Homo sapiens: one gene and its partners. The protein of the gene in region 1 purifies or fractionates together with the protein of each later gene. This does not show direct contact. Each region holds a gene or a part of one and is shown on either strand. Other genes may lie near its edges. The genes, in order: PCDHB16, GAS6 and PNPLA6.

The links.
Region 2: the proteins of PCDHB16 (region 1) and GAS6 purify together in Homo sapiens (affinity purification with mass spectrometry; 2 studies listed by BioGRID and IntAct, with this or other methods). This does not show direct contact.
Region 3: the proteins of PCDHB16 (region 1) and PNPLA6 purify together in Homo sapiens (affinity purification with mass spectrometry; 2 studies listed by BioGRID and IntAct, with this or other methods). This does not show direct contact.

What each region holds. Positions count from the first base shown.
Region 1 is NC_000005.10:141,180,834-141,184,579, reverse strand, and holds the start of PCDHB16 (protocadherin beta-16 precursor), read right to left. Parts: upstream 2,194-3,746; 5' UTR 2,021-2,193; coding exon 1-2,020. UniProt on the Homo sapiens protein: Potential calcium-dependent cell-adhesion protein. May be involved in the establishment and maintenance of specific neuronal connections in the brain.
Region 2 is NC_000013.11:113,829,575-113,833,220, reverse strand, and holds part of GAS6 (growth arrest-specific protein 6 precursor), read left to right. Parts: intron 1-468; coding exon 469-587; intron 588-732; coding exon 733-922; intron 923-3,646. UniProt on the Homo sapiens protein: Ligand for tyrosine-protein kinase receptors AXL, TYRO3 and MER whose signaling is implicated in cell growth and survival, cell adhesion and cell migration.
Region 3 is NC_000019.10:7,549,162-7,552,807, forward strand, and holds part of PNPLA6 (patatin-like phospholipase domain-containing protein 6), read left to right. Parts: intron 1-745; coding exon 746-951; intron 952-1,136; coding exon 1,137-1,268; intron 1,269-1,355; coding exon 1,356-1,479; intron 1,480-1,832; coding exon 1,833-1,946; intron 1,947-2,200; coding exon 2,201-2,276; intron 2,277-3,646. UniProt on the Homo sapiens protein: Phospholipase B that deacylates intracellular phosphatidylcholine (PtdCho), generating glycerophosphocholine (GroPtdCho). This deacylation occurs at both sn-2 and sn-1 positions of PtdCho.

The DNA of each region.
Region 1 (3,746 bases):
GGAGCGGCAGGAAGGGCTGGGAGAAGCCGTCCACCAGGAGCACGTGCAGCGTGGCGGTGGCCGAGCGCGGAGGCTCGCCATTGTCCTTGACCAGCACCACCAGCCTCTGCTTGGCTGCGTCGCGCTCGCTCAGCAGCCTGGCGGTGCGCACCTCGCCATTGTGCGCCCACACACCGAACAGCCCGGGCTCCGTGGCCTTGAGCAGCTGGTACGACAGCCAGGCATTCTGGCCCGAGTCGCCGTCCACCGCCACCACCTTGGTCACCAGGTAGCCCGGCTCGGCCGCCCGGGGCACCAGCTCAGTGCAGGGCGCGGAGCCGTTCTGCAGCGGGTACAGCACGAAGGGCGAGTTGTCGTTGGCGTCCAGCACCAGCACGCGCACCAGCGCCTCTCTGCTCAGCGCGGGGGAGCCGCGGTCTGTGGCGCCCACGCGGAACTCGAAAGCCTGCAGGGCCTCGTAGTCCAGCGACCTGAGGGCGAACAGGTGGCCGTTGTCCGCGTTGATGGAGACCAGGGAGGCGAGGGGCAGGTGCGGGTCTTGGGGCGGCAGCAGCGAGTAGGTGACCTGGGCGTTGGTGCCCGAGTCTCTGTCTGTGGCGCTGACGCTGCCGATGTGCAGGGCGGGGCTGTTGTTCTCGCGGACGAACAGGGTGTAGGAGGTTTGGGTGAAAGTGGGGGCGTTATCATTGACATCTGATATCTGCACTGTTATGTTGTGCTCCGTTTTCAGCCTTGGAGTCCCCATATCTGTGACGGTGAGGGTGATATTATATTCAGCTCTTGCTTCTCTGTCGAGTGCTCTCTCCGTTACCAAGGTGTAAAAGTTCTTGACTGAAGGTTTTAGAAGAAAGGGAAGGTCTTCCTGGATGGAGGAAATCGTCTTCCCATTGTTTCCGGAGTCAGGATCTGAAACGCTGAAAACAGCAACTACTATCTCAGGCGAGTTCTCTGGGATGGGGCTGGTGAGTGCAGACATGGTCACCTGTGGGGGATTGTCATTCACGTCCACCACCTGCAGGAGAAGAGTGCACTTTCCTGAAAGACCTCCCCCATCTGTGGCTTTGATGCGCACTTCATAAGACGTAACCATTTCGAAATCTACTTGCTTTCTCAGTCGAACTTCCCCTGTCATAGGATTTACCTCCAAAGTTTTACTAATATCCTCCGAAGGCTGAAAGAGTGTGTATGATATTTTTCCATTGGCTCCGCCGTCTAAATCCCTGGCGGAGACGGTGGCAACCAGGGAGCCAAGAGGACTGTTCTCTGGAATCTGCACTTTGTAGATGGGCTGCTCAAACTCAGGAGCGTTATCATTGATGTCCACCACTTCAATACGGACCTGAGCAGTTCCAGATCGCGGTGGAGAGCCACCATCCAGCGCTGTCAGGGTTAATCTTAGTTGAGGCTCCTCCTCCCGATCCAGCTCTTTATCCAACACTAGCTCAGGGTATTTCCTGCCATCTCTGAATTCATGGATTAGAACCCGGAAATGAGAGCTTGGGCTGATTTTATAGTTTTGAACATTATTGCTTCCTACGTCCAAGTCCAAAGCATGATTCAGAGGGAACTCAGTTCCTAGAGGACTGTTTTCCGGTATTTTTAGAATCATTTCCTTTTCAGTGAACATGGGAGAATGGTCATTTATATCTATCACCCTCAGTTCAGCCTGAAATATTTCTAAAGGGTTTTCCATTAACACTTGGAAATGTAGTATGCAAGGCTCAGTGGGACCGCATAGCTCCTCTCGATCTAGCTTCTCATTTATGAGCAAATCCCCAGTTTGAGCCTTGAGCTGCAAATGCTGTTTGTTCCCCTGGGAAATGATCCTGGCCTTGCGGGTGGACATCTCTGTCAACCCCAACCCCAGGTCTTTTCCTAGATTTGCCACAAAAGAGCCTCTCTCCGTTTCTTCCACTACGGAATAGGACCCCAACTCGGCGCCCGCCCCAGACAAGCTCAGCAAAACAAAGAAAACAAGGACTTGCCTTTGTCTCCGATTGTGCATCCATCCAATCTCCATTGCTTTTTCTTGAAAAGTTGGTTCACAGAAGCTTCATGTATCCCCAGGATCCTAGTAGAACTGTTTTGCAGTCCAGAATGTCAGAACCAAGCAGCCCAACGGTGTCTTAAAGAGGTTTCACACTCACGTTCGCTCTGGCTCAGCTATTCTTCTGCTTCCAGGCTTTGGGAAACGGTTTGCTGGATCCTGGAGCTGCGTAGGCAGTTGTATTTTCCGTCATCTTAACCTGCAGCGCCACCACGCGTTCTCACTGAGTCTTTTACTGTGGTTGAATATTGGAGGCAAAATACTTCTAAATGTACTGAATAGACTATGTAATACAAAACACTGAGTTCTATTTTCATGTGACTTTCGTGTATACAGATGGAGCTCTGTGATGTTGTACAGGGAGGAGTACAAAGAGAAGACTGTCATTTATGTTATTGACTGTTTAATGCTGTTGAGATTAATGATTAAATAAAATTCAATGAACATTTAACCAGACATAGAATACACACTTAGAAGCAAAATTTTTCTGAAGTAACATGAGAACAGTTTCACAAGTACATCTTTTTCATGGTACCTATATAGACACTATGAGTAGACACTGCAAAATTGCAATCAGTGGTAGTTCTAAAGAGTATTTAACAATTGCTTTATTAAAGAATAAATTACTTCCTTTTCTTTCTGACACCTAACCCTGAGAAGTGTGAGTTTTTACAACTTTCAAGTTATTGGAAAATTCATTCCCAAACAAGCAAATCTCAAGGTTGGGTCTGCTACACTTTTGGATTCCCCCCACCCTTTTTTCATTTCAATGGCTTTTAATATATTCAGAGGTGTGCATCCGCCATCACAATTTTAGAACATTTTCATCTCAAGAGAAACCTTACCTCTTTTAATTATCACCGTACCCGTTCTCCCATCCCACTTATAAACATATGTGTGTGTGTGTGTGTGTGTGTGTGTGTGTGTGTGTGTGTGTAGGTTAACTGAAAAAGACTGAAGAAAGAGAATAAGAAATTCAAGAAATGAAACTATAGGTTAACTCTACTTCCTACTTAGACTCATTTCTTTAATAATGGATATGGCACGTAGAGAAAGTACAGGACTATAAATCAGGTTAATTCGCTCATCATAAAGTTCATTTGTAGTATCTGTCCCAGCATACTTAGAGCTTTGATAAGAACATGGGTATATTTGTGCAGAGTAGTATAAACAAACTATAAACTAAAACTTATATTTTCACATGAGAGTTTAGTTCATGGAGTAGGAGTAGGAATAACATAAATTTCACTTCCTTAGTTAGAAAAACAATGCTATCAGTTAATGCCTGACCATATAGCATATTGGCTAGACTTAGATTATATTTTAAATTTTTACCTTTATTATTTCAGAATTATAAGAAAGTTAATCGTTTTTTGTGGGGGGGAATGAGGTCTCACTCTGTCACCCAGCCTGGAGTGCAATGGCACAATCTTGGCTCACTGTAGTCTCTGTCTCCTGGGCTCAGGGGATCCTCTTACCTCAGCCTCCTGAGTAGCTGGGACTACAGGTTCGCAATCACACCTGGCTAATTTTTGTATTTTTGTTAGTGTCAGTGTTTTGCCCCATTGCCCAGGCTGGTCTCGAACTACTGAGCTCAAAGGGTTCAGCTTGCCTCAGCCTCTCAAAGTGTTATGATTACAGGTGTGAGCCACAGCTCACAGCCAAGTTACCTTTCTAAGCCTCAGTTTTCTCATATTTA
Region 2 (3,646 bases), on another chromosome or scaffold:
CCCCTCCATCTTCCAGGGGTGTCAGCTCACACCGGCTTTGGTTCTGTCCCCCTTCGGGCAGCGTGGAGAAACCACAGCCCAGAACAGGGAACTTTCCAGGACAGCCATCTTCAAGGCATCCATATCTATTTCATAATAGTGTATACTTTTTAATGATTCTCTGTAATTTTTGTATGCTTGAAATATTTCATAATTTAAAAATAAAGGGTCAAGGGAAATGAGCAGGGAAGGAGATGACGGGGACCCCCGAGAAGCCCTGTGGGAAGCGGCTGCTGCAAGCCCGCCCTTCACCTGGGAGTCCCAGTGGGGCAGGTGTGACAGCCTCTGGGGTCTCAGCAGCTAGAGGCGGGGTGGCCACTCCCGAGGCACAGGAGGGACAGTGGACCCGCTGCGCGGCCGGGGCGTGGGGCTCAGGGGAGCAGGAGTGAAGGCCACATCCCCGACCGGCGTGGCCCCCGTCCGTGGCAGGACATCTTGCCGTGCGTGCCCTTCAGCGTGGCCAAGAGTGTGAAGTCCTTGTACCTGGGCCGGATGTTCAGTGGGACCCCCGTGATCCGACTGCGCTTCAAGAGGCTGCAGCCCACCAGGTGAGGAGGTGTCCACAGGAGGCAACACAACTTAGAATGGCCAAGACACTGGCTTCACAGGGCCCGGGCCAGGGTTCGGCCAGCAGGGAGGGGCCGGGCATCTGCCTGTGCCCAGTGCTGACTCATTTCTCCTGTGGGTGCCCAGGCTGGTAGCTGAGTTTGACTTCCGGACCTTTGACCCCGAGGGCATCCTCCTCTTTGCCGGAGGCCACCAGGACAGCACCTGGATCGTGCTGGCCCTGAGAGCCGGCCGGCTGGAGCTGCAGCTGCGCTACAACGGTGTCGGCCGTGTCACCAGCAGCGGCCCGGTCATCAACCATGGCATGTGGCAGACAGTGAGTGTGCGGCAGCCACCCCTTCCAGGCCTCACGGGGTTCTCCCTGAGCCAGACTCAGCTGTCACTCGCTTATGCAACCGTTAGGAGATGAGCTCTGGGGCCTGCATCTGCTGCGTGCCGGCAGGACGGGGACCCCTGCCCCGTTTAGTTCATGCTCCGGGAGACGGGGACCCCTGCCCCGTTTAGTTCATGCTCCGGGGGACGGGGACCCCTGCCCCGTTTAGTTCATGCTCCGGGGGACGGGGACCCCTGCCCCGTTTAGTTCATGCTCCGGGGGACGGGGACCCCTGCCCCGTTTAGTTCATGCTCCGGGGGACGGGGACCCCTGCCCCGTTTAGTTCATGCTCCGGGGGACGGGGACCCCTGCCCCGTTTAGTTCATGCTCCGGGGGACGGGGACCCCTGCCCCGTTTAGTTCATGCTCCGGGGGACGGGGACCCCTGCCCCGTTTAGTTCATGCTCCGGGGGACGGGGACCCCTGCCCCGTTTAGTTCATGCTCCGGGGGACGGGGACCCCTGCCCCGTTTAGTTCATGCTCCGGGGGACGGGGACCCCTGCCCCGTTTAGTTCATGCTCTGGGGGCTCACTGTGGTGCTCTAGGCCTCTCTGCTATTTCATCACGTTTCAGCCTGGCTCCCTCAGAAAGGGGCCTTGAGTGCAACCTGTCAGTTTGGTCTCCCTGAGTTTGGTCACCCTGGCTCAGGTAGAACCCGTGGTTCTCAGCCCCAGGGGACCCTGGGCTGTGTCTGGAGGCCATGCTGTTTATCCCGAGCAGAGTGGGGAACAGAAGCCAGGGCTGCTTGACGCTACACGCAGGGTGCCCCACCAGGGGAGGAGGCCGCCACTGAACCCGCACCACAGCCCAGAGCTCCCGCCGTACGTGTCTCCCGGGCCGTGGCCAGGCCAGGCGCCGCCCGCCCACCCTTCCCTGTAGGACGGCGTGGACGCTGCGGTCCCTGAGCCCTGGCTCCCAGGGCCTGCTGGTCAGTGCGGCCATGCATGCCAAGGGTCCAGGTGACCTCACGGGAGCTGCCCCTTGCCAGAGACGTCCTGACCACCTGGACCCCAGCCCCATGGGCAACCTGAGGGGTCCTGGTCAGACCTGCACTTGGGCAGCTGTGGGCAGCGGTAAAACGTGCCCACCCCACATCCCCATCCGTGGAGCGAGAGGGCCTGTAAGCAACCAGGCTCCCGCCCACAGCGCTGGGCCTCCCTCACCATACTGGGCTTGCAGAAGGAAACGTTGGGAAGAAAGGTGGAAAGCACGTCTTGCCCTTCAGAAACATTGTAGACTTGTATTTCCATCCTGCAAAGCAATGCCTCGCTCCATTTTTCCCAACCTCTTAAAGGAGCAGTATCTCCAAGAGCAGGAGGCTGTTCTCAGCAAAGCTACAGAAAGCAAAGGAAGCAGAAGCAGTTTCAGGGATGGAGCCCCGGGGAGGAGGGCCCCAGGGCAGGTGGCCTGAGGCGAGGTCGCCTGGGGGAGCGGTGTTGCAGGGGATGGAGCCATGGGGAGGAGGGGCCCGGGGCAGGTGGCCTGAGGCGAGGTCGCCTGGAGGGAGTGGTGTTGCAGGGGATGGAGCCATGGGGAGGAGGGGCCCGGGGCAGGTGGCCTGAGGCGAGGTCGCCTGGGGGAGCGGTGTTGCAGGGGATGGAGCCATGGGGAGGAGGGGCCCGGGGCAGGTGGCCTGAGGCGAGGTCACCTGGGGGAGCGGTGTTGCAGGGGATGGAGCCACGGGGAGGAGGGGCCCGGGGCAGGTGGCCTGAGGCGAGGTCACCTGGGGGAGTGGTGTTGCAGGGGATGGAGCCACGGGGAGGAGGGGCCCGGGGCAGGTGGCCTGAGGCGAGGTCGCCTGGGGGAGCGGTGTTGCAGGGGATGGAGCCACGGGGAGGAGGGGCCCAGGGCAGGTGGCCTGAGGCGAGGTCACCTGGGGGAGCGGTGTTGCAGTGTAGTCCCGCCCAGTGACTCACAGCGGCCGCAGCACCCCACCAAGACAGGCCCTTCCCCAGCAGGGGTACCTCATGAGGACCCCTCCCCAATTCCACCCTCTCTAGCTGCTGCCCAAACCCAGCTGACCCGAATTTGTACCATGTTTTTGTGACTCAGTTCAAACCCAAATACCTGAAAGGTGTTTTCACACAGGAAGAAGGATATTCTTCTGAAGCTCAGGAATATAGTGTATCTAGCATTAGACTTTACAGGTTTTCTATGAGGAAAGGTTTTGGTGACCACATTGATGCATCGAGGGCCCTCCTGGCCCAGATGATGAGCAGGGACTCTCTGAGGTTGGGACCCTCTTGGCTCAGGTGTGGATCAGGTGGTCTCCTTGAGGTCAGGTCCCTCTTGGCTCAGGTGAGGATCAGGTGGTCTCCCTGAGATTGGGACCTTCTTGGCTCAGGTGTGGATCAGGGGGTCTCCCTGAGATTGGGACCCTCTTGGCTCAGGTGAGGATCAGGTGGTCTCCCCGAGGTCAGGTCCCTCTTGGCCCAGGTGAGGATCAGGTGGCCTCCCTGAGATTGGGACCCTCTTGGCCCAGGTGAGGATCAGGTGGACTCCCTGAGGTCAGGTCCCTCTTGGCCCAGGTGAGGATCAGGTGGACTCCCTGAGGTCAGGTCCCTCTTGGCCCAGGTGAGGATCAGATGGTCTCCTTGAGATCAGGTCCCTCATGGCTCAGGTGAGGATCAGGTGGTCTCTCTGAGGTTGGGACCCTCTTGGCTCAGGT
Region 3 (3,646 bases), on another chromosome or scaffold:
TTATTCTCTCCTTCATGTTTCTTTTTTTTCTTTTTTTTTTTTTGAGACGGAGTCTCGCTCTGTCGCCCACGCTGGAGTGCAGTGGCGCGATCTTGGCTCATTGCAAGCTCCGCCTCCCGGTTTCACGCCATTCTCCTGCCTCAGCCTCCCAAGTAGCTGGGACTACAGGCGCCCGCCACCACACCCGGCTAATTTTTTGTATTTTCAGTAGAGACGGGGTTTCACTGTATTAGCCAGGATGGTCTCGATCTCCTGACCTCTTGATCCGCCTGCCTCGGCCTCCCAAAGTTCTGGGATTACAGGCGTGAGCCACCGCGCCTGGCCTTCTTCTTCTTTTTTTTTTTAAAGACAGTGTCTCACTCTGTCGCCCAGGCTGGAGTGCAATGGCATGATCTCAGCTCACTGCAACCTCAGCCTTCCAGGTTCAGGCAATTCTCTTGCCTCAGCTTCCTGAGTAGCTGGAATTACAGACATGTGCCACGACGCCCAGCTAATTTTTTTATTTTAGTAGAGACAGGTTTCGCCACGTTGGCCAGGCTGGTGCCGAACTCCTGGCCTCAAGTGATCCCCCCTGCCTGGCCTCCCAAAGCGCTGGGATTACAGCCGTGAGCCACCGCGCCCTGCGCCTTCATATTTTTCTTAACCCTTCCTTTCTTCTTTAATTTTTTCCTGTGGGGGCATGTTGACCTGAGCTGGGGTCCACGCTGTCCGGGTTCTGTGTTCATCACATCCCCTGCCCGCACAGGACGTGAGCCTGCACTTCGTGCTCTGGGGCTGCCTGCACGTGTACCAGCGCATGATCGACAAGGCGGAGGACGTGTGCCTGTTCGTAGCGCAGCCCGGGGAACTGGTGGGGCAGCTGGCGGTGCTCACTGGCGAACCTCTCATCTTCACACTGCGAGCCCAACGCGACTGCACCTTCCTGCGGATCTCCAAGTCCGACTTCTATGAGTATGACAGCCCGAAGTTGGAGTGTGGGTGGCACTCGGAGGACCCCAACCCGTGGGAGTGGCCAGAACCCCATCCCTCAACCTCACTCCTGGAAGAGCAGAAGGGAGCCCCCAGATCTGGCCTCCCAGCGCCGGTGTAGGACGGTTTTGAGGCCTTCCTCTTTCATCCCAAGTCTGTTCCTGCAGGATCATGCGCGCACAGCCCAGTGTGGTGCTGAGTGCGGCGCACACGGTGGCAGCCAGGATGTCGCCCTTCGTGCGCCAGATGGACTTCGCCATCGACTGGACTGCAGTGGAGGCGGGACGCGCGCTGTACAGGTGCAGCTCCCACCGCGCTGCTCAGGCCCGGCCTAGGGGTGGGGACCTGGGGGTGGTCAGACCTTGCTGACCTCCACGCCCACTCAGGCAGGGCGACCGCTCCGACTGCACTTACATCGTGCTCAATGGGCGGCTGCGTAGCGTGATCCAGCGAGGCAGTGGCAAGAAGGAGCTGGTGGGCGAGTACGGCCGCGGCGACCTCATCGGCGTGGTGAGCGCGACCCCCACCCACTGACCTCTGGCCTTTTCCAGGCCAGTCCCTCGACAACTCACACACATCATCCCGGGTAATCCAGGGAGTGGTGAATGCAGCTCCCGACCTCTGAGGTCACCCAGTCCACTCCCCGCCCAGACCTCATTTCGTTGGAAAAAGGGGATTCCGCCTGTCGTGGATCCCTGTCCTCTCCCTCTCCCCAGAGCTCTAATGGGTAGCGAGCGAGGCTTGCTTCCCTACACCCCCATTGCAGGGGAGCCCTAGATGGGGCAGTACAGCCCCCTTTCCACCCATCTTCGGCCTCCTCATTCCCCACCCAAGCAGCCCCAATCATGCACGCGGCCCCCCAGGTGGAGGCACTGACCCGGCAGCCGCGAGCCACGACGGTGCACGCGGTGCGCGACACGGAGCTGGCCAAGCTTCCCGAGGGCACCTTGGGTCACATCAAACGCCGGTACCCGCAGGTGCGGCCTGTTGTGGGCGGGGCAGAGAGGCGGAGGCGGGACTCCGGGGGGGTGGGGGCCGGGCCTAGTGTGTGGGCGGGGCTTACAGAGGGGCGGGGTCGAGGGAGGGGCCGAAGCGAGAGAGTGAGGGCGGGGGCTCTCGGGGGTGGGACCCAGGTAACGGGCACCCAGGAGCCCCGGCATAGGAGGGAGAGGTGGGACCTGGACAGCCGCTTCCCAGGTCTCACTGAAATGCCGGCCTCCAACGCCCCCAGGTCGTGACCCGCCTTATCCACCTACTGAGCCAGAAAATTCTAGGGAATTTGCAGCAGCTGCAAGGACCCTTCCCAGGTGAGAGCCGGCCGGCCCAGAGCGTGCTGGGAGATGTAGTCCGGCGTCCAGAGCATGCTGGGAGGGAAGCCTTCTTTCCTGAGGGATGCTGGGAAATGGAGTTCCGCGAAGAAATCGTGCCCCTGAGGGTTTCAAACCCTAAGTAGGACCCAGGTGCAGAGCATTCTGGGGAATGGAGTTCGTGTTCCTGAGCATGCTGGGAAACGAAGTCCTCGACCCCTGGCGTGCTAGTTAATGGGCTCGAAAGTAAATCAGTGGTGCCGGGGAGGGAGTCTTAGGCGGTGGACTTGGCGTAGTCTGCCCGGGAGTCAGGGCTTGCTGGGGAAGTCCACGGCCTGGACGTTGAGAGAAAGGGAGTCCTAGATCAGAATATGATGGCAGGGCCGTCATGGTGGCTCATGCCTGTAATCTCAGCACTTTGGGAGGCTGAGGCAGGAGGATCGCTTGAGCCCAGGAGATTGAGTTTGAAACCAGCCTGGGCAACATAGTAGGACCCCCGTCTCTACAAAAATTTCAAACATTAGCTGGGCTTGGTGACACATGCCTGTAGTCTCAGCCACTCAGGAGGCTGAGGCGGGAGGATTGATTGCTTGAGCCCGGAGGTCGAGGCTGCAGTGAGCCGTGATCGTGCCACTGTACTCCAGCCGGGATGACAGAGCTAGAACCTGTTTCAGAAAAAATAAAACAGCAAACAAACAAAACTCCCCATACCATGATGGAAAATAGTCTGTGGATTGTTGTTTAGGACTCTGGGCACCTCGCCTTCTGAAGTTACAGCTTGCTGGGAGATGTAGCCCCCTGTTTCAGCCTGTGGCTTCAGTGAGCTAGAACAGAATGGGGCGTGCGGTGGGGTTGGAGGCCTGCTGAAATGAGGGCCTGAGTTTCTACATTGTGGTGGCCAGATTCTGGGCCAGCCCAGCAACCTAGATACCCCTTTTCCCTCCAGGGGTTCTACCCAATTGGCCCTGAGCCCTAGATCCCCCAAGGCGGGGGCAGGGCGGTAGTGGCAGAAAAGACATCATTAAGAAATTACAGAGGCCTGGGGCGGTGGGTCACGCCTGTAATCTCAGCACTTTGTGAGGCTGAGGCAGGTGAATCACTTGAGGTCAGGGGTTCGAGACCAGCCTGGCCAACGTGGTGAAACTCATCTCTACTAAAAGTACAAAAATTAGTCGGGTGTGGTGGTGGGTGCCTGTAATCCCAGCTACTTGGACGGCTGAGGCAGGAGAATCGCTTGAACCGGGGAGGCAGAGGTTGCAGTGAGCCGAGCCTACGCCATTGCACTCCAGCCTGGGCAACCAGAGCAAAACTCCATCTCAAAAAAAAAAAAAGAAAGAAAAAAAAAAAGAAAAGAAAAGGAAAGAAATTAC